Linked DNA regions of Homo sapiens. The protein of the gene in region 2 binds, or shares a complex with, the protein of the main gene of each other region. Each region holds a gene or a part of one and is shown on either strand. Other genes may lie near its edges. The genes, in order: AP1S3 and AAGAB.

What was found.
Region 1: the proteins of AAGAB (region 2) and AP1S3 are in contact, whole or in part, in a crystal structure (PDB 9DDT), measured with the Homo sapiens proteins. Residues at the interface, in NP_078942.3 of Homo sapiens: Asn51, Lys52, Tyr53, Tyr54, Glu108, Val109, Met110, Ile111, Gln128, Ile132, Gly135, Phe136, Glu137, Asp151, Phe153, Pro154, Glu155, Arg161, Gln164, Ala165, Asn167, Ala168, Asn169, Val170, Met176; in NP_001034658.1 of Homo sapiens: Arg10, Gln11, Lys13, Arg15, Gln37, Leu40, Ser41, Arg61, Tyr62, Ala63, Ser64, His85, Val88, Asp92, Phe95, Val98, Glu100, Leu101, Asp102, Ile104, Phe105, Asn106.

Annotation. Positions count from the first base shown.
Region 1 is NC_000002.12:223,825,000-223,837,932, forward strand, and holds the start of AP1S3 (AP-1 complex subunit sigma-3), read right to left. Parts: upstream 12,584-12,933; 5' UTR 12,452-12,583; coding exon 12,449-12,451; intron 1-12,448. UniProt on the Homo sapiens protein: Subunit of clathrin-associated adaptor protein complex 1 that plays a role in protein sorting in the late-Golgi/trans-Golgi network (TGN) and/or endosomes.
Region 2 is NC_000015.10:67,200,894-67,209,661, forward strand, and holds part of AAGAB (alpha- and gamma-adaptin-binding protein p34), read right to left. Parts: intron 8,652-8,768; coding exon 8,569-8,651; intron 7,766-8,568; coding exon 7,669-7,765; intron 3,256-7,668; coding exon 3,151-3,255; intron 2,705-3,150; coding exon 2,655-2,704; intron 2,006-2,654; coding exon 1,928-2,005; 3' UTR 1-1,927. UniProt on the Homo sapiens protein: May be involved in endocytic recycling of growth factor receptors such as EGFR.

The DNA.
Region 1 (12,933 bases), on a different chromosome or scaffold from region 2:
GGAAGTGTCAATAAGAAAACAGTTCCTCGGCCGGGCTCGGTGGCTCACGCCTGTAATCACAGCACTTTGGGAGGCTGAGGCGGGCGGAGCACGAGGTCAGGAGATCTAGACCATCCTGGCTAACACGGTGAAACCCCATCTCTACTAAAAAAAAATACAAAAAATTAGCCGGGCGTGGTGGCGGGCGCCTGTAGTCCCAGCTACTCCTGAGGCTGAGATAGGAGAATGGCGTGAACCCGGGAGGCGGAGCTTGCAGTGAGCTGAGATCGCGCCACTGCACTCCAGCCTGGGTGACAGAGGGAGACTCCGTCTCAAAAAAAAAAGAAAAGAAAACAGTTCCTCATGGTCGACCTTCACCCAGTTCTCCTCCAGCACTTCTATTTCCTTAATAATTATTCCCTTTCTTTATTCTACTCACTGACCCCTTCCCTCTCACACACACATCCAGTCACTCATACACACACTGTTTTCTGAAGAGCTGAAGGCGGGGTCATCCCACCCTTCCAGGCTCAGCCCCAGGCCTGTCTCTCCCATCTCCTCCCCACTGAATTCCTGTGGCAATTATATAATTTAACAACATACTTCAGAGCTTAATTTTCCACTCTAGATTTGCTATGCATGTAAAAAATTTTGCCCAAAAACATGACAAGTATCTTGTAATCAAGAAACAGATCTTATATTTGTGGGGTTTTTTTTCCTATTAATAATAACCACTGCAGTTAAGAACACAAAGATTGCCGGCCATGGTGGCTCAGGCCTGTCATCCCAGCACTTTGGGAGGCCGAGGTGGGTGGATCACCTGAGGTCAGGAGTTTGAGACCAGCCTGGCCAACATGGGGAAACCCCATCTCTACTCAAAAGACAAAAATTAGTCAGGTGTGGTGGCGGGCACCTGTAACCCCAGCTACTTGGGAGGCTAAGGTGGGGGGATCACTTGAACCTGGGACCAGAGGTTGCAGTGAGCCGAGATTGTGCCACTGCACTCCAGCCTGGATGGCAGAGCAAGACTCTGTCTCAAAAAGAACACACAGATGAACAGGTGAGAAATACCCTGAAACAGTATTATTTTTCCATTCATCATTTTTCCCTGACAGAGTAATCAACTTTGAATATATCCACAACACCTGTCAGTTGTTTAATTTTTTCCTATAGTAAATATGCTGATTGAATTTCTCCTGGAGTCCTTTGAGAATCAGACTAGTCCTGTGTTGTGTTTCAAGTCATCCAAGGAGAAAAAGACTGGAAATAGGGGGCAGAAATTCCAGGAAATTTCAGTACGACTCTGAAGTTGAATAAAACATTAATAACTTGCGGCAGGTATGGTGGCTTATGCCTGTAATCCCAACAATTTGGGAGGCCAAGGCGGGCAGATCACTTGAGGTCAGGAGTTCGAGACCAGCCTGGCCAACATGGTGAAACCCCATCTCTACTAAAAATACAAAAATTAGCTGAGCATAGTGGTGTGCGCCCGTAATCCCAGCTAATTGAGAGGCTGAGGCATGAGAATCGCTTGAACCCGGGAGGCAGGGGTCGCAGTGAGCAGAGATTGCACCACTGCACTTCAGCTTGGGTGACAGAGAGAGACTCCGTCTCAGAAACAAAACAAAACAAAATTAATAACTTAGGACTCTATTCATATTTCATAGAGATGCTTTTTTGTTTTTGTTTTTTTAAGACAGGGTCTCACTCTGTCATCCAGGCTGGAGTTCAGGGGCACAATCTCGGCTCACTGCAACCTCTGCCTTCCAGATTCAAGCAATCTTTCCACCTCAGTCTCCCAAGTAGCTGGGAATACAGGCGAGCACCACCACGCCCAGCTAATTTTGAGATGCTTTTTTTGAACTTTGCTCAAGAGGCTATGCTTACTATGCTAAACTCAACACCCTGCATGGTAATGACCACTTAATGGTTATTAAGAACTTTCATTTTCTTCCTACTCAACACTCATTAAAAATCTATCCCCAGGGCCTTTTATACCTTGACAAAGATGACTTCAGTTACAAGCAAAATTTTGTAAGAGGCGGGCAATGGTATATCCATCATACCCTTTCAAAGTTTACCACTAACAAACTTCAAGCATTCATCTGAGAGACCAATCTGCCTTATTGTATATTCAAGTCTTGCCCTTCCCCCATAGTTTTTGCAAAGATGGTTGATGTAGACTAGATTATCGTGAGACGGAATGGACTTTGAAAGGCGGGACTCTCTTATGTAGTGGACTTAGAACTGAAGACATGACTTCTTAGTAATGAAACTGAAGGTAAGTACTTGTTTATACAACAAAATTAAAAAGTTCTATACAGACTTCTGAATCATACTTTAAAAAAAAATGTGATATTACTGTAACCCTTACCTTCCCCTACCTCCCCAATATCTGCAGTCCATAATTTTGTTTTGTTTTGAGATAGAGTCTCACTTTGTCGCCCAGGTTGGAGTGCAGTGGCACGATCTCAGTTCACTGCAACCTCCACCTCCTAGGTTCAAGCTATTCTCCTGCCTCAACCTCCGAAGTAACTGGGATTACAGGGGTTTGCCACCACACCCAGCTACATTTTTTTTTATTTTCAGTAGAAACGGGGCTTTACCATGTTGGCCTGGCTGGTCTCGAACTCCTGATCTCAAGTGATCTACCCACCTCACCCTCCCAAAGTGCTGAGATTATAGGCATGAGCCACTATGCCCGGCCGATTTTGTTTATTTCATCAGTTTAAATAAATTTCTCAGAGGAAAAAAAAAAATCTAAAGTATTTTCATTAGCTTTTCCCATTTCTCTTAGAAATAGCCCTGGCTAGGCTGGGCACTGTAATCCCATCACTTTGGGAGGCCAAGGCGGGCTGATCACCTGAGGTCAGGAGTTCAGGACCAGCCTGGCCAACATGGTGAAATCACGTCCTACTTAAAATACAAAAATTAGCTGGGTGTGGTAGCAGGTGCCTATAATCTCAGCTACTCAGGAGGCTGAGGCAGGAGAATTGCTTGAACCCAGGAGGTAGAGGTTGCAGTGAGCCAAGATCGTGTCATTGCACTCCAGCCTGGGGTACAAGAGCAAGACTTCATCTAAAAAAAAAAAAAAAAAAAAAAAAAAAAAAAAAAAGAAGAAGAAGAAAAGAAAAAGAAATAGCCCTGGCTAGCATTTATGAAATATGTTCCAGGTGCCAGGCCCTGTGCTGATTGAACCAAGCAGTCTTATTCCACGCTCAGGTGATCTCATGAAATGGGATGAACCAAGTATCTAAGATCAAAGCGCTCACACAGGGCCCTGGGGTCATTCCCCTCACCACATTCTCCTCTCTCTCTTTTTTTTTTTTTTTTTTTGAGACAGACTCTCACTCTGTTGCCCAGGCTGGAGTGCAGTGGCACAATCTCGGCTCACTGCAACCTCTGCCTCCCAGGCTCAAGCGATTCTCTTGCCTCAGCCTCCCGAGTAACCGGGGTTATAGGCGTGCACCACCATGCCCAGCTAATTTTTTGTCAAGGCCAACACTGCCCCCTACCCCATGTGCCACATCTGGGTCCCCACATGGCCCACCTGCAACTTCCCAGGAAATAAAACTGAGATGACTCAAGAATGCTTAATATCAAATTCTTCTCCTGTGTGATTGATCCAAAATATTTACAGAGTTGAGAGAACTCCTCACCAAGAATGTGAGCTCCGTGCAAGCAGGTGGCTTCTGGCTTGTTCAACACACTCTCTGAGGCCCAGACCCATGGCTGGTTTCTGTGGACACAGGGTCATTACATGGAGAAGCCCTGCATTCAGAAGGACCCAAAACTTGGTTTAATGCTCTGCTGTCACTATCTTGAAATTCCTGGTAAACTTTGAAAAAGGGATCCTACATTTTATTTTTATTTTATTTTTTTGAGACTGAGTCTCACTCTGTCACCCAGGCTGGAGTGCAGTGGCGCGATCTCGGCTCACTGCAACCTCCACCCTCCGGGTTCAAGCGATTCTCAGCCTCCCGACTAGCTGGGATTACAGGCGCCTGCCACTGCACCCAGCTAGTTTTTGTATTTTTAGTACAGATGGGGCTTCACCATCTTGGCCAAGCTGGTCTTGAACTCCTGACGTGGTGATCCACCAGCCTTGGCCTCCCAAAGTGCTGGGATTACAGGCATGAGCCACTGCACCCAGCCAGGACCCTGCATTTTCATTTTGCACTGGGCACTGCAAATTAGGTAGCCAGTCCTGCCTGTCATGGGGCAGGCATCCAAATTATTTGTCCAATATACCTATGATGAGTTAGTGGAAGCTGCCCTAGAAAATGGGTCAATAAGCCATGACTTACAGGCCAAATCTGGCCTTCTGCCTGTTGTTGTAAATAAAGTTTTATTAAAACACAGCTCCAGCCAGGCACAGTGGCTCATGTCTATAATCCCAACACTTTGGGAGACCAAGGCGGGAGGATCACCTGAGGTCAGGAGTTCAAGACTAGCCTGGCCAACGTGGCAAAACCCTATCTCTACTAAAAATACAAAAATTAGCTTGGGAGGCCAAGGCGGGGGAGATCACTTGAGGTCGGGAGTTCGAGACCAGTCTGACCAACATGGAGAAACCTTGTCTCTCAGGAGGCTGAGGCAGGAGAATCACTTGAACCCAGGAAGCAGAGGTTGTGATAAGCCAAGATCACACCATTGCACTCCAGCCTGGGCAACAAGAATGAAACTCCATCTCAAAAAAAAGTTAAAAATTAGCTGGGTAAGGTGGTGGGCACCTGTAATCCCAGCTACTTGGGAGACTGAGGCAGGAGTATCACTTGAACCCAGGAGGCAGAGGTTGCAGTGAGCTGAGATCACACCACTGTGCTCCAGCCTGGGCAACAGAGTGAGACTCCATCTCAAAAAAAAACAAAAAAAAAACAAAAAAACACAGCTCCATCCATTTGTGTCTTGTCCGTGGCACTTTCACTCTACAACAGAAGAGTTGAGGAATACTGAAAGACTGTAGGGTCCACAAAGCCTAAAATATTTACTATCTGGCCTTTTACGGAGAAAGTTCACTGTCCCCTGCTTTAGTAAATTGTCTCTCCAAATTTTCTATCCAAATAACTGTAACAGCAGGAAAGGCAGGTGGCCTCATGAGACCAGGAGGGTAGCCTAAGCTGCAAGCCATAAACAATATATGTCTTAGGGTTTGTATGTATGAATTTTGCATCCGGGAGCCAAATATATTAGTGTGTTAATACAAAAATATTTTCTCGGCTGGGCGCTGTGGATCACACCTATAATCCTAGCACTTTGGGAGGCCGAGGCAGGCAGATCACTTGAGGTCAGGAGTTCAAGACCAGCCTGGCCAACATAGTGAAACCCTATCTCTACCAAAAATACAAAAATTAGCCGGGCGTGTTGGCATGCACCTGTAGTCCCAGCTACTCAGGAGACTGAGGCAGGAGAATTGCTTGAACCTGGGAGGCAGAGGTTGCAGTGAGCCGAGATTACGCCACTGCACTCCAGCCTGGGTGACAGAGTGAGACTCTCTCTCAAAAAAAAAAAAAAAAAAATTATCATTCTGAACAATACTCCAGGGATGAGTCAAATTTATCCCTTGACAACCCCTGTCTACAAGGATGAGTACGCAGAAGGTATGGGCACCCCAGTTTGCAAACCATGCCTTCATTCCTCATCTTTGATATACCCAGTGTGGAAGGAAGTCTCCTGTAGCATTTCAGTGTCCACTGAGCTTCAACCCACACCAATCATTTCTTACCAGCCCAGAAAATCCTGTTAGAGAAGATCCAACAAGGACATTAAATACAGAATCTCTTGTGCACTTATTCTTAACTGACTGTACTAGGTCCATGCCCCATCGCACTGAAAGACTAAAGTTTCAGAAGCTACTGAGAGCCAGGAATTTCAGAGCCCAGAGATGCCTGTAGGAAAGTTTTTAGAAGAGGGATGTTGGCAGAGGCCAGTTTCCTCATGATTGTCGATAACATTCTATTTCTAACTTGAATGATTTTCAGTATCCCCTTTTCATTGTTAAGATTTTTAATTTACCTTATTGCTAGCAGCGATACAAGAAATACATTTTTTTTTCTTTTTAATAGAGACTGAGTCTCACTGGTCTCAAACTCCTGGGCTCAAGCAATCCTCCCTCCTCAGCCTCCCAAAGTGCTGGCATGAGCCTCCAACCCTGGCCCCTTTCTCTTTTGGAGATAGGATCTCACTCTGTCACCAAGGCTGGAGTGCAGTGGCACAATCATGGCTCACTGCAGCCTTGACTTCCTGGGCTCAGGTGATCCTCTCATCTCAGCCTCTCAAATAGCTGGGACTACATGGGTGCACTACCACGCCCAGCTAATACTTTCTGTATTTTTTCTAGAGATGGGGTTTCGCCATGTTGCCTGGGCTGGTCTCGAACTTCCAGACTCAAGCAATCCACACACCTTGGCCTCCCAAAGTGTTAAGATTACAGGCGTGAGCCACCGTGCCCGGTCAAGAAATACATTTCCTTAGTCAGGGTGCTGGCTGGATAGTTTCATATGCCACTGAGAGAATTTAGGAGCATTTGCCTCTGACATTTGTGTACATTCTTTCATGTCATAGATTATGGGGGAGCTTCAAATGGTTTAAAGGGAGTTTTCCTGGATACTTCAGGTTAAACAGAGAAAGTATCGGGGAAAACTAGGTATACCAGAAAGGGAGACTCTGAGAGAGAAAAAGACAGGCCCCAGGGAAGAAATGAACCACAGAACCACAGTGAAGTTTCAGGTCTCTGGGAGAAACACTGGCTATCGTAACAACAAAACAATATCAAAAGGACAATTCATGAAGACATCAAGAAGTACTTGTTCTGTTGGCCGGGCACGGTGGCTCATGCCTGTAATCCCAGCACTTTGGGAGGCTGAGGCGGGCAGATCACGAGGTCAGGAGATCAAGACCATCCTGGCTAACACGGTGAAACCCCATCTCCATTAAAAATACAAAAAAATTAGCTGGGCATGGTGGCGGGAGCCTGTAGTCCCAGCTACTCAGGAGGCTGAGGCAGGAGAATGGCGTGAACCCGGGAGGCAGCGCTTGCAGTGAGCAGAGATCGTGCCACTGCACTCCAGCCTGGGAGACAGAGTAAGACTCCGTCTCAAAAAAAAAAAAATCAAAAAAAGGACTTATTCTGGGGATTATTAAAGGAGTTTTCTCTCTGTGTGTGTGTGTGTGTGTGTGTGTGTGTGTGTGTGTGTGTGTGTGTGTTGGAAAGGGGAGTAATTTTATCATTATGTCTTAAAATGAAATAATTCACGGGACCCAAAAGGGCAGACATTGACAACACCGTTCAGCAAATACACAGTGTGCTGCTTCCTTACAGCTGTTGTTGGCAAAATGCCACACAAAAGTTATCAGCAGCTGACAATACTCACCACAAACAAACAAACAAACAAAACGAGTGATAGAAACTCGGTAGTAACAATCCTGGTGAGGAGTAAATACAAGTCTCACTGGTGTTTTTGGGAGACCTGTGGGAAGGGCCAGTGGAGGAGAGCCCTCTTGGGACAACTGAACACCACAAAGGGTCATTTCTCCCCTGATCCCAAAGCCCTCGATCTTACACTAACTGCTGGCCAGCAGCCTAGACCAAGTCTCCGAGGAGGAAAGCACTCATTAGTGTAATAGACCGCTTCACCCTCAAACTGGAACTTAAATTGCCAAAATCATTACATGCTTATTACAATTCATTCAAGCTTCAGAACATAAAATTGATACAGAAGGGGAAGGGGGCGTGGCAGGACCTACAGGTTCATAGTTCGGTTTTTCCACCCTCACCCTCAACAACTCCCTGAGATTAAAATGAACAAAGGAATTTTTTTTCTTTTTTCTTTTTTTTTTTTTTTTTTAGGAGAAGGGTGTACTCCTACTATTTCAAACTTAAATATCTTCTGAATAAGAAATGGCTTTCCAGTTCTGTTTGGTAAATTCTCTCAAGTCAGATTTTAAATCGTACACCCAAAAAAAATCCTTGATTTTTTTTTAGCATAAATCTATCCTACTTTACATAAATAACATACATTATGAGAACGGAATTTGCAACACAAAAAGACGGTTATTCATGTTTCCAAAGGGATCAACATTTGAGTTTCTTTCAATGGGTGGCTCTACTGTTTTGTTCACAATGTGGTTTTGTGTCACCTCAACTTTTCAGAAGCACATGGACTACATACATCAAAGTCCACTTGTGCTTTTATTAAAAGTACCCCCAAAGCATTTCAAATGTCACTGTATACATCCCCACAGCTATCTTGTTAAAGGCAAAATACATACATACATACATACATACATACATACATACATACATAAACAACATAATCCTCCTTCATTGCCAACCATTCAACAGTACATTCTGCCCCATAAGCCTTTTTAAACACACTGGGCTCAGCTCGTGGGATTCCTGAAGTGCAATAGCCCTAACACTGTTTTCCAAGGTAGAGATTTCTAAAAGGTGAGATGGAGTACACAGTTGCTTCAAACAGTGTGATCCAGATACAAACACAGTCCCAACATGCACCAGATATGAAATCTCTGTGCCAGAAACCAGGGTCACTGGCACCATGGAATCAAGAACCATTTTCTGTGTGTAAAGTACTAGGTGCCTAGATCTGCCAGTAAGCATCTACCAGTTTCCTAGCATAAAAGTCAGCAAAAGTCAGGAATGAAGCAGCAGGAAAGACAGGGAGTTACACAGTGAGCCTCAACAAAGGTCTCAGAGCAGCTGGGCACTAGCGAGGGCCGCCAATTCTTTCTTACAACTTGAAGGTAATAACAGAGGAGAGGTGATGGTTACTGAGCATTTACAATGGCAAAGCTGTTTGAAGCGCCTTCACACGCATTCACTTATGGTACCTGTTAAACTCCGGGACAGTGATTATGAAACTTTTTGGATGCCTTTACACTCTTTTTATTTATTTATTTATTTATTTATTTATTTATTTATTTATTTGAGATGGAGTTTTGTTCTTGTTGCCCAGGCTGGAGTGCAATGGCACGATCTTGGCTCACCACAACCTCCACCTCACGGGTTCAAGCGATTCTCCTGCCTCAGCCTCCCAAGTAGCTGGGATTATAGGCATGCGCCACCACACCCAGCTAATTTTGTATTTTTAGTAGAGACAGTGTTTCTCCATGTTGATCAGGCTGGTCTCAAATTCCTGACTTCAGGTGATCCGCCTGCCAATCCCAAAGACCTTTTTGTTTATGTGGGTTATATCCACTGATATTTATTGTATTTGAAATTAAAATGAAAAAATAGATATTAACATATTTTAAAATAATACGACTTGGGCAACATAGGTAGGCTTCATTTCTACAAAAAGTAAAAAATTCCACTGGGCCCAATTGTTCATGCCTATAATCTCAGCACTTTGGGAGGACAAGGTGGGAATATTACATGAGTTCAGGAGTTCAAGACCAGCCTAGGCAACAAAGTAAGACCTCATTTATACAAAAATCAAAAAATTACCTGGGCATGATGGCACACACCTGTGGTCCCAGCTACATGGAAGGCTGAGGTAGGAGGATGCCTTGAGTCCACTGGGTTGAGGCTGCAGTAAGCCATGTTCATGCTACTGCACTCTACTCTGGGTGATAGAACAAGCCTTGTCTCAAAATAAATAAATAAATAAATAGCTGGGCATGGTGGGACATGCCTACAGTCCCAGCTACTCAAGAAGCTGAGGTAGGAGGGTTGCTGGAGCCTAGGAGGTTGAGGCTGCTGTGAGCTGTGATCACACCACTGCACTCAGCTTGGGCGACACAGAGACCCTGTCTCAAAAATAAATAAATAAAAAGAAAAAACAATAGTAAACCTATTACACATTAAACATAAATAACATTTTTATGACCAATAACAATATTTTTCCAAAGCAAAAAAAAAATTAGTGAAAAGCATGGCACTGTTTTACAATTTTGCAAATCTCCTTAATGTCTGGGCTTATCAAAGACAGTTGGACTTTCCTATCTGCATCTGTGTTCAATCTGTTGTACTATCTCAGCTTATGTAGACACAAGAAAACTTCACTGTAGTCTTGTGAGAATGAGAATGAAATGGGAAAATTAATATCTTAGTATTATTATGAAAATAGTTTTGACCTTGCAGACCTCCAGTAAAAGTCTTGGGGACTGCTGGGGGTACCCAGGTCACACTTTCAGAACCTCTGCCTTATGAGTTAGGAGATATTATCTCCATTTTTCAAATGGGCAAACTGAGACAGAGAGGTCAAGGAATTGTCCAAGGCCATACTGCTAGAATAGCTCAGAGTAGCTAAAATGCAATGAGCATAACAGATTTAACCTCAATTGTTTGTTGCAAGGATTGAATGAGATCGTGAATATAAAGAGCAGGACATCCTGCTTGTCTTATCACAAATGCCCAATAACATTAATGTTTCCCCGCCAGGTGCGGTGGCTCATGCCTGTAATGCCAGCACTTTGGGAGGCCGATGCAGGTGGATCACGAGGTCAGGAGTTTGAGACCAGCCTGGCCAACATGGCAAAACCCCGTCTCTACTAAAAATACAAAAATTAGCTAGGCGTGGTGGCGGGCGCCTGTAATCCCAGCTACTTAGGAGGCTGAGGCAGGAGAATTGCTTGAACTCGGGAGATGGAGGTTGCAGTGAGCCAAGATCATGCCACTGCACTTCAGCCTGGGTGACAGAGCAAGATTCCGTCTCGAAGAAAAAAAAATAATAATAATGTTTCCCATTTAGCAAAAACTGGTAGAAAAGCTGGAGAAACTTCCCACATTTCTGATCAACTCATCACACATATGACACCAGCAAGAAAAAATAAAACTCCACCACAGGTATTGTCCAGAGGAGCAGCTTTTCCTTATAGACCAAACCTTGGCCCATTCCTCAGCACAAAAGCAGCCTTTGATGACTCAGAAACGCAGGGCCTTATTCCAGCCTCTGTTAGGCAAATTACACTGGTGGACTGGGCATCTGTCACCTTGTTCCTTGGGAAACTTGAGCAAGCCAAGAAACCTGCTCCATTATTTACAGCATTGTTTTTGCATCACGCTGTATTTACAAGGAACCCTCAACAGACAAAAATGATGCCGCTAGTGTGTGCAGCCAAACCTTTAACAGAAACCAGCAACTGCGGTCTTGCTGGCCAGGTGCTCAGCACTCCCCGGCTCTCTTTGTTGATCAACTTTCTTAGCCCACGTGGCCCACCCACTCCTGCCTCCGGTGGGCCCACAGGGTGCAGGTCACTTCCCTTCTGCGGATTTGGGAAGTGGTAACACACTTGGGGAAGTGGGACTAGTGACGTTCAGACCACCACACTCTTAAAAGGCTGCCCCTAAACAGCAGGCAAGAGCAAGAGGAGCCTGAGCTATCGCTTCCACCCAAGTGCAGGTCACCAGATCTCTCATCAGCAGGGCTGCGGCCGGCCTCAGCTTCCAACCTGACCCCCTATCCCCTGCCCTTACACACCCCAGTCCATTCTCCAACCACAGCCAAACTGCACACCATGCCGGGTGCAGTGGCTCACCCCTGTAATCCCTACACTTTGGGAGGCCGAGGCAGGCGGATCACCTGAGGTCAGGAGTTCGAGACCAGCCTGGCCAACATGGTGAAACCCCGTCTCTACTAAAAATACAAAAATTAGCTGGGTGTGGTGGCACACGCCTGTAATCCCCGTTACTCGGGAGGCTGAGGCAGGAGAATCGCTTGAACCCGGGAGGCAGAGCCGAGACCACACCACTGCACTTCAGCCTGGGCGACAGAGCGAGATCAGTCTCAAAAAAACAAAAGTGCACAACGGGTAAGGTCAGTTTTCTTGCTAAAACGTCCCCGAGGTTTCCCCTACTCAGTTGGAACCAAAACCAAACTCCTTATTTTGGCCTATAAAAACCCGCCTCACCTGGCAGAAGCCCACCTCTCCTGCCACAAACAAGGCCTTCTCCCCTCCGCTTTGCTCTCTCTAATCCACCTGTAGCGCCCCTCCAGGACCTCCAGCAGCTAGAATGTCATGTCCTTGAAGAGGCTTTGCCAAATCAAAAGTTGCCACTCCACCCGGTTGTATTTGAGACTTTACAGCGCTTCTTACTTTAGAAGTTCTCTTCATTTTACTTGTATATTGGACGTGTCCCTCCCTCCGCATCCCCCTCCTGGAAGGTAAGCTTCCTGGAGAACAGGGGCTCCTCCTGGTCCCCCGCGACATCCCCAGCGCCCAGCACCGAGCCCGGCACAGACTAAGCACTCGGCTAAGGCGGATCGAATGAATGAATGGAGCCGCGGCGCCGCGGCGCCGCGTTGCCGCAGGAATCCCGGGCAAGCGATCCTGGCGCGTCCGCACCGTCTGGGGCAGCGGGGCCACAGGGACGCACGGTTCGGGTGGCCAGGCGGGACTCGGCCCGCACCCCCACCCGGCCGCGCGCCCGGCCCGGACGCCCCAGGTGCCTCCCCGGAGCGCGAGCGCCCCCACCGCCTACCCGGGCCGGCGGTTCCCCCGCACTCACCATCGTGGCTGGGCCGCCGCCTCCCCCGCCTTGCGAGCAAGGAGCGCTGGAGAAGCGAGGGCGAGAGGCGAGCGCTGGAGCCGGTGCGGCTGACAGGTGAGGCGCCCGGCTTAGACCATGGCTGCTTCCCACAATGCCCTGGCACTGAAAGTGTGCAGACTCCTCCCAGCGCGGCTGCCTCCTCCCTGCACGCTCCTCCCCGCTGCCTCCTCCCCGCGCCCTCCTCCCCGCTCCCCCCGCTCCTCGCCCTCCTGCTCTCCTTCTTTCTTCCTTTCCCCTTTCTCCTCCCTTCTCCTCCTCCTCCTCCTCTTCCCTCCTTTCTGCCTCTCCTCTGTACCCCCTCCCCGCCCCCGCCTCGGCTGCAGCTGTTCCCGCCCCGAGCCGGCCGCACCTGGAGCGAATGCACCTGCGCGCGCGGGCGTCTGTACCCCGACAGCCCGCAGCTCGGCGCGGGTGGTCAGGCGAGAGCGCGTGGCCCGCTAGGA
Region 2 (8,768 bases):
TTCTAAAATAGTGAGCTTGACAGACTCTTCCACTATTCACTATATATGTCTAATCCAATGAAGGATATAGGGCTTCCCTCACTCATACCCCCTAATAAAAAACCACAAAATCATAATAATAGACATTAGCACAGTTTATAAATAAATCACATTTTAATCATCTGGCTTTGTTTAATCTACAAAATCAAATTCACAGCTTTTTCTAGTCTGGTCTGTTTTTTCTAACCAGATGGCCTAGTATATTTTCTAAAACCTTCCATCTTTTAAGGAAAACATGTTCCACCTTTTTTTTTTTTTTGCAATCCCAGAGCCAACTTCCCTAATGCAATCACCTCAAAGAAACACTGATGGGCTGGTGGTGAACCACAGACTCAAAGTCTTTCAGAACAGTAAAAGAAAAAAAAAAAAAAAGGAACAAAAGGTCACTAAGCAATGTCCAGTGTTCCCTGGAAAGCCTCTTCCTGAATGCTCCAGTCACTGAGCTGTCCCCTCCCTGTGGTCACTCCTGCTGGCCCCTGTAGCATTCCATTCCTTCTGCCATCTGTTTCAGGTTCTGCAGTGCTTATAAGGTAGTGTCTGGAGGGGTGTGAGCCTTATTTCTTTCTGCTCCTAACCCAACCTGTTTCTTTCATGCTGTGTAAATGGTTCTAGAGCCCACCTAGGCCAGAACCAGTTCTCAGCTGGTGTGCGGGCACCTTCCATCCACTGTACTATGTGCCAGTTCAGAGCCACAGCAGTAATGATCACAGTGAGGGCTAATGATATGCATTACAAAGTCTACAAAAACAAATAAGGATTTTTATTTGCAGTACTTTCCACTCTTCCTTTAAAAACTTGCCATTTGCTTATCAGTTCCTCTGGGGCTGACCCACTCAAACAAGACAAAGGATAAAGAACAAAAGATAGTCCTCCGAGGTTACAGGCTTGGAAGGGCAGAGAGGAGCTACGAACCTTGGAAGAAAAACAAGGTGCTCAGGAATTCATCGCCTAACATTTCACTTCCCCACCCACCCCTTAGTGCTCCCACTTTGGCAGTGATCTCTCTTTGGCTTTAAAGAGAAAGGGGGAAATGTGCCTTGTTTTGCAGGTGTGCAACAACACAGCTCTGGCATCTCAAGCAGCAGGGGAGAACTCTAAGACAGAAGAATTTCTTCATGAAAATCACGGTATGTTATCACATACTGTCTCCATGGCCCATACAAGGACTCCTTAAGGTTCTCTCTAACATACAACATATCCCCCACAACTCAGTAGAGAGGTTTTCTTCCCACTGGAATAGAAATCCTTTGCCTCATTTATTACAGTCTAAAAATCCACACTGGCTTTTTGATTCTTTCTAGCATGAGCTCAGACACTATACTTCAAAAGAATGCCCAGAGGCATTTTCTTAGGTAGAGACTTAGCTGCGGGCTGAGACTTCGGCCCCACATAGCTCACATCAATTCTGCAGCTGCCTCCTTTCCTCCCAATAAAAGCATCATAGCTCAGAGCTACAAGCTCCTTGAATGGAGAAAACCCAAATCACCCAGGAAAGGTGACACAACTCCTGATGTGCAGTATCAAGTGTGAATGCTGGAAATGCTACTTAAAAGGTTGACCAGGAATGGCCTGGAGGTTGTCTTCAACTTGAGTAAATCACACAGACCTCTGAGATTTATCCTACCCTCATTCCTAGAACAAAAAAAAAGTATATTTAAGAAATCCTCACTCATTACTATCACTGTATTCCTCACTCTCTTACAATATACTGAGGAAAAAAAAGATTTCTCCTTAACCTCCTACTAAAAACTAAAATTAAGGGGACCCTATAAACAAGTCAGGCAGCCAACATGATAAGGGCAATTTTGGCAAAATATGACTGGGCTGAGTAGAGAGGTATCTCAGAGACAGCTAGCATCTTTGTTGGTCAAACCCTAGTATGAATAATTCAGTGCTCTTCATCAGATGAAAGGCCTTCAATTTCATCTCTGTCTCCCCCGATTGCCATCCAGAATGCTTTGGCCACCTGTGGAGAGAAGCATGCAACAAATTTTAGGCAACAGCTACATTTCAGCTTGTTTCATATGTCATACCTTAAACTGACTGAGACCTAAAATTCTGCACTTTGCCCTCCAGTCCTCTGGCAACACATATCAGAACCCTTGAATACCATTTGACCCATGATCGCCACATCTAGAAATTTATACCAAGGATATATTTAGAGTTGTATACAAAGATGATGTGTAAAGACATGCACAGCTTTGTTATTTATAGAAGCAAAAAATGCACATGACCTAAATGTCCAAAAGGGAACAGGATAAATTATGACACATATCAGGGAACACCATCAACCATACAAGTTTCCTGCCAATAGCATGTGTTGTGTTGGTAATAATAAAACAAAACAACTAAGAGTTTTCTGGCCCAATAGTTAGAAAGGCAAACATCCTGAGTCTCAATAAAGGTTCCACATCACTCACCATCCAGGTGAAAAATCTTGGTTTGACTGCAGCAACTATACTATTACTGTATAAATATTTAATTAGTTAGAAGTTAATATTCAATGAAAAGCTCACACTAAGACCCTTCAGAAATACACAAGTGTGATATATAATTATAATAATAGCACTGGACCTTTTATAGGTATTCAATAAATACCTGGCTGATTGTCTCACCTTTTCTGCATGCACTTTTCTTTGCTCATGAGGAAGCGTCGCAGCCTTGTCTAGGGGGAAAATATATCTTAAGAAATTTGTCTAATAGCACAGGATAACCTGGAGTATATGAATAACACTAGAAGATGGGAGACGGGTTTCAAAGACATGTTTATGATGTAGTCATTACATGTATTAGGAAGTTTTTAAGTCTTCCAAATTTTCCAGATGGGAATGATGTGAGTAAATTGGTAGGGATCTTACAGTTTCCACCTTATGTAACACATTGAAAGAAACAAGGCAAAAGCAGGAAAAGTAAAAAGAAAGAGAACGAAGATGGAAAAATTTTCCCCAGGGAATTTTTTTTTTTTACCAAGTCCCAGGAGTAGCTAAGTTTCTCAAGACAGCTGAGACCAGAACAAGGAATCCAATCCAGCAGTTAACAAAATAAAATGCTACTACGTAAAACAGACAAGCATCAACATGGGAACATATTAGACACAATGGATCTGATTACCTTTCATTTCCTTTAACTTTGAAAAGAGTCTTTCAAAATTCTCCACATCTCCTCCTCCAGTGGTAAGACTGGCTAATTCTTGAATATCCAGATCTAACATGGGATCTGAAATAGGGATTTGTCACATTATCTGTCACGTTATTTGCATATGTGCTACACTCAGAGAATCCTAAGGCAAATGCTAACCTTGATGAAGTCACCAATGATCGAAGGCCCAGTGTATACCAGCTTTACAGCTCATGGCTCACCCTGCTTGGCTGCTAGTGGGCCCTCACAAATGAAGAGTAACTATTTTATCCTCACAACATCGTCATGAGGTAAGGAGTACTATTTCCATTTTAAAGATGAGAAAACCACATCTCAGAGTTGAAGTGACTTGCCGAGGTGACAGCTAGTAAGTTGATTCAGACGCAGGTGTTTCCAACTCGGAAAGCATACTCACTCCACTAAGGTACACTGATTCACCAATAATGACTAAAGTTTATGCCATATTTTACTGTACAACAAATATTTTCACATCTATTACCGACAACCACTATAAAAGGTGATTAGAACAGATAACATTATCTGAGAATAACAGAAATGATATGAAAAAAAAACCTGTATCTAAAAATGAACTCATCTAAAATTACAGCTATTCAGAGGTAGAGCTGATTTAAATTCATATTTTCTTACTACAAATCTTTTACTGTTTCTACCTTGGCACACTGCTTCTTTATTAAAGTTTGTTTTTAATCAGAATTTTAACTCCTTCTCCACTCCAGGCCCACTATGTTTAGAATGTCTTCCCTGCCCATCCCACTTTCACAGGTCTCCTTCCTTAGAATTCTTTCTACACTTATTGTTTCCAGAACTGTCTTAGCACTTGCATATATTACCTTGTATTCTAACATTTCTCCACCACTACTTTAATAAGTACTACTACCATAAGAGAGAATTTGCTTTGGATCTGCACCACTGAATGCTTTAACTTACATGGTTCCACTGCATCTTTGCAACAGCCCTATGAGGAAAGATTTATCACCGTTATTTTACAGAAGAGGAAACTAATGCCAACAGAGGTTAATTTATTCAAGGTAAGGCCATTACTAGCGATAAAGCCATGATTTGAACCCAGCTGTACAGGACTCCAATGACTATGACCTTAACCATTACATTATAGGTCCTATCTCTATATTTTTAGACTAAGCTCCATGAAGATAGGATGATGACTTATAATTATTTGCATCTATCACAATGCCATATAGACAATTTGGTGTTAAAAACGCATCTTGGTTAATATATTTGCTTTCGTTCAATGGACATGTCATGTAGGAAGTTGGTATATAGGGCTGAAGATAAAAGTTTGTGATTTATCTGTGTATACATAGTAATTGAGCTGTTAATGTAGACAGAATCACTCCATGCCTAAATATAGATTTGGAAGAGTTTAAATGCAGCAATGAAGAATGACAATATTTAAAGGCTGGGTAAAGAAGGGTATCTACCAAAGAAAGAGAAGGAATAATCAGAGAAGTAGGAAGAAAACCAGGCGACACCGTGTTGGGTGAGGCATGGGAAGAAAATGTTTCAAAGAGGAATTGATCTGTAACACTGAATGCTGCCACGAGGTCAAGATGAGGACTGGAAAATATCTACCCGATTTAGCGGCATGGAGGTCATTGCTGGCCTTTGCACAGAGCTGTTGTAGTGGCATACCAGGGGCAAAAGACAGACATGAGTGAGGTGAGGAGCAAATGGGAGGTGAGGAATGGAAACAAGTTTAGTAAAGAGATAAGGAGGAAGATGTGGAAATGTTTGGTTTTTGTTGATTTGGTTTTGCCTTAAATCTTTTTCTTAATTTACTCTTAAAAAAAAACTTGCAAAAATAGTACACAGAGTTTCTATATGCTCTTCACCCACTTTCCCCTAGTGTTAACATCGTTTATGACCATGGTACAATTATAAAAATCAAGAAGTTAATATTGGTATAATGCCATTAACCATGCCATAGACTTCATCGGTTTTTCCACTAATATCCTTTTTCTGTTCCAAGATCCTACATGGAATTTAGTTGTCAAATCTCCTTAGTCTTCTCCAATTTGTGACAGTTCCTCAGTCTTTCACGACTTTAACACTTGTATGTCAGTTATTTTGTATAATGTCCCTTAATTGGGTTTGTCAGATTGTTTTCTTATTATTAGATTGCAGTTATGCATTTTTGGTGAGATTACCTTCTCACTGCATCCTATCAGGAGGGCTATTATGTCAATATGTCTTATTACCAGTGATGTTAACCTTCATTACATAATTAAAGTGGCTGGCATCTGATGAGTTTCTCCAGTGTAAAGTTACTATTTTCCCCTTTGTAATAAATAAACATCTTGAGAGAGATACTTTTAGACTATGCAGATATACTACTTCTCCTCAAACTTTCACCTATGCTACCAAGAACTATTACTGTGTTTTGTGCCTAATGATGGCTTTCTATTTTCCTCATTCCTTCTATATTTATTACTTGGGATTCTTCTGGAAGGAGATGCTGTCCTTTCTTTCTCATTTGTTTATTCAATTATTTATTTATATTAGTATGAACTCATGGATACTTAGCTTACTCTATGGGTTATAACCCAATACTATATTAATCTACTTTGCTGGTCAAATTGTTCCAGATTTAGCCACTGGAAGCTCTTTCAGGTTGGTCCCTATGCCCTTTCAACATGTCCCCATTCTTTTTTGAGAATTTTCTTAATTTCTGGTACCAAGAGATGCTCCAGGGTCATCCTGTATTTTTCTTGCCCAAGTCCTGGAATCAACCACTTCTCCAAGGAGCCCTAGTTCCTTTTATTGGAGAATGGTATTTAGAAAGCAAGATCTGGCCAGGCGCAGTGGCTCACGCCTGTAATCCAAGCACTTTGGGAGGTCGAGGCAGGTGGATCACCTGAGGTCGGGAGTTTGAGACCAGCCTGACCAACACGCAGAAACCCCGTCTCTACTAAAAAACAACACAAAACAAAATTAGCTGGGCGTGGTGGCACATGCCTGTAATCCCAGCCACTCAGGAGGCTGAGGCAGGAGAATCGCTTGAACCCAGGAAGCGAGATTGCGGTGAGCCGAGATCGTGCCACTGCACTCCACCCTGGGCAACAAGAGCGAAACTCCATCTCAAACAAAAACAAAAACAAAAACACAACAACACACACACACAAAAAGAAAGCAAGATCTGAGTGCTAAGTGTGTCCACTGCTATGGTGGTATTGTTGCTTCTAGGCCTCTCAGTGGACAGAACTAGGAAATATATGTGTGTATACTAATACACGCATATACACACACATCTGTATTTATTTTCTTAACTGTAAGTATATTTTTAAAGCCATGAGTTCATACTGATACATTAGATTCCAATCCAGTACCAAAGGGTACATCTTGGCCTTCCCTTTTCCTTATTTGTAACCTTTTTCCTCTGGCAGTGAGAAACCTAACTCTCACTATCTATATTTTTTATTTTCTATATGTCAGTATATGTGTGGTGTATAAAATATCTATATATAAAATTTCAGAATTGCTGAGCCATGCTCCTATAAGAAACAAATTTACTAAGTAGAGTTCAGTATCTGTGTTCAGTTATTTTTGTTTTTAGCCTTACGGTATCTAGTCCAATTACTGTTTTCTAAAGTTACTTAGGTTAGTGCTTCAAGTCCCCACCCACTTCAGTGTGATTACTAGTTTGTTTTAATGGCAGAGACTCTGGCAGGTTTAAAAGCCAATGGGAAGGATTCAATTGAGAGGCTAAGGATGAATAAACTGGAAAGAAAAAAAATTATACATAATTTTTTCTTCTTCTTCATATGTTTCTATAACCAATCACTTGAGTTTTCTACATGAATTATCTCATAAGAAAAAAGAGTTTTAAAAATTTATTACTGCACATGAGCCGTCTGTAGCATAAAGATAAAGTAGGAATATCAGTAGTTCCCCAGCGAAAGAAGATTTATAGTTATTGTCAAGTAAGCTCCTTGGTTTTCTGGCTTTTGGACAGCATACTGGATTCCAGCTTCAGCTCCAGGCCCTTCTTGCTAGATGTCCTTGGACAAGTTATTAAACTTCTCTGCAAAACTTCATTACCAAATGAGAAAGGGGATATAAAATAACTTTAAAAGCATATGGAAGGGCTTATAAATATAAAGTTGTATTATTCTTGTCACCATCGATTCTGACTTCTGTTAAATATTATGAAAAAACTACGTGATACAGAGCTAGCTGTTTCGCCACCTGGTTCGGTCTGCCTTGGCTAAGATTATCTGAATCAAGATCCTGCTAGGAGAATTAAAGAGAAAATGGTACCCACATATTTGTTATATATTTATTCTTCTTCCTTTTTCTGATAGCCACTGGCAAGGCTCACATTCATGTGTGGTATACTACCAATTTTTTTCCCTTCTCTGTGTTTAAAGTCAATTTCCCCCTCAACAATTTCTGCCCAGATACCTATTCCAAGTTGCACAAAGCTCTCTCTTGGCAGCCAAAGGAGGAACTTACCCACAATGCTATCAACCTGGGCATCTGTTGTGTTAGATGCACCACCCCGATGATCAGAGAGGGATTCAGTACTATCTGCTGCTGGCAAATGGGGTTGCTGTTGAGGAAAATACACATAAGCAACAATTTAATCGTAGTCTATTTCAGAACTAAATCCAAAAAAGCTCACACTTTCAGTCCTTGGTTGGCTTGAGAAAAGAGTAATAGGAACTGGAGGCAAAGAAAGAAGAGCAAGATCACATTAAAAAAATAAAAGGCTAAAACTTAACTAACCCAGAAGTACTTTCCCCCAAGGAAGAACTAGAAAGCGTTGATTTTGCTTTAGACTACTAAAACATGTTTTTTGTTTGTCTCATTTAAGATCCATGTTATATTCAAAATGTGAAAATGTAACACAATCGTAACACAAATAGCTCAGAGGCTGTTGAAAAAGATCCCTGGAAAGACAATGTGGCACTGTATAATTTGCTCTTGGCTCCAGCTGCTGACCAAGGTAAACCTGGAACAAAGTTCTTAAGGATGCAGGGTTGAAACTGGACTACAAGCTCATTGAGGACAGGGACCTTGCCTCAGATTTGCCAAGGTCTTTTACACAGGAAGTACTAAAAAAGCACCATGAATTTTATTTTCTATTTAAAGATCTGAAGGCAAATTAATGCCTCAGGGAAATCCTAGCATATTTTAGAAAGCACCCTAGTAAAAATAAAACCAAAGCTGTAAACATCTTGAAAGGGCTTACTGCTTTAGCAAGGGCTGTTTTAGACCTTCCTTTCATCTATTTTTAACATTCTCTGTCACCTTTTAAATGGAAAGGAAAACAATGGTGAATGTGTCAAGATTCATAATGACAAGGAGAAATTAAAGCCAAAGAGGGAAAAAAGATCCAAGAAAAACCTTTACCTCTGGGTGACAGGGATCTGCTGACCCAATGCTATGGTTTGTTCCAGTCAATGAGTTGAGAAGGCTAAAGCCTTGGTTCCTATCTGAAAAGGAAAAATACACTTAGTGAAATTTGTCATTTACATTTTAAACTGTTCAAATGGCTATGATGATGAAACAAAGGCTACTTATTTGTTACCAAAGTTCTAACTACATATATA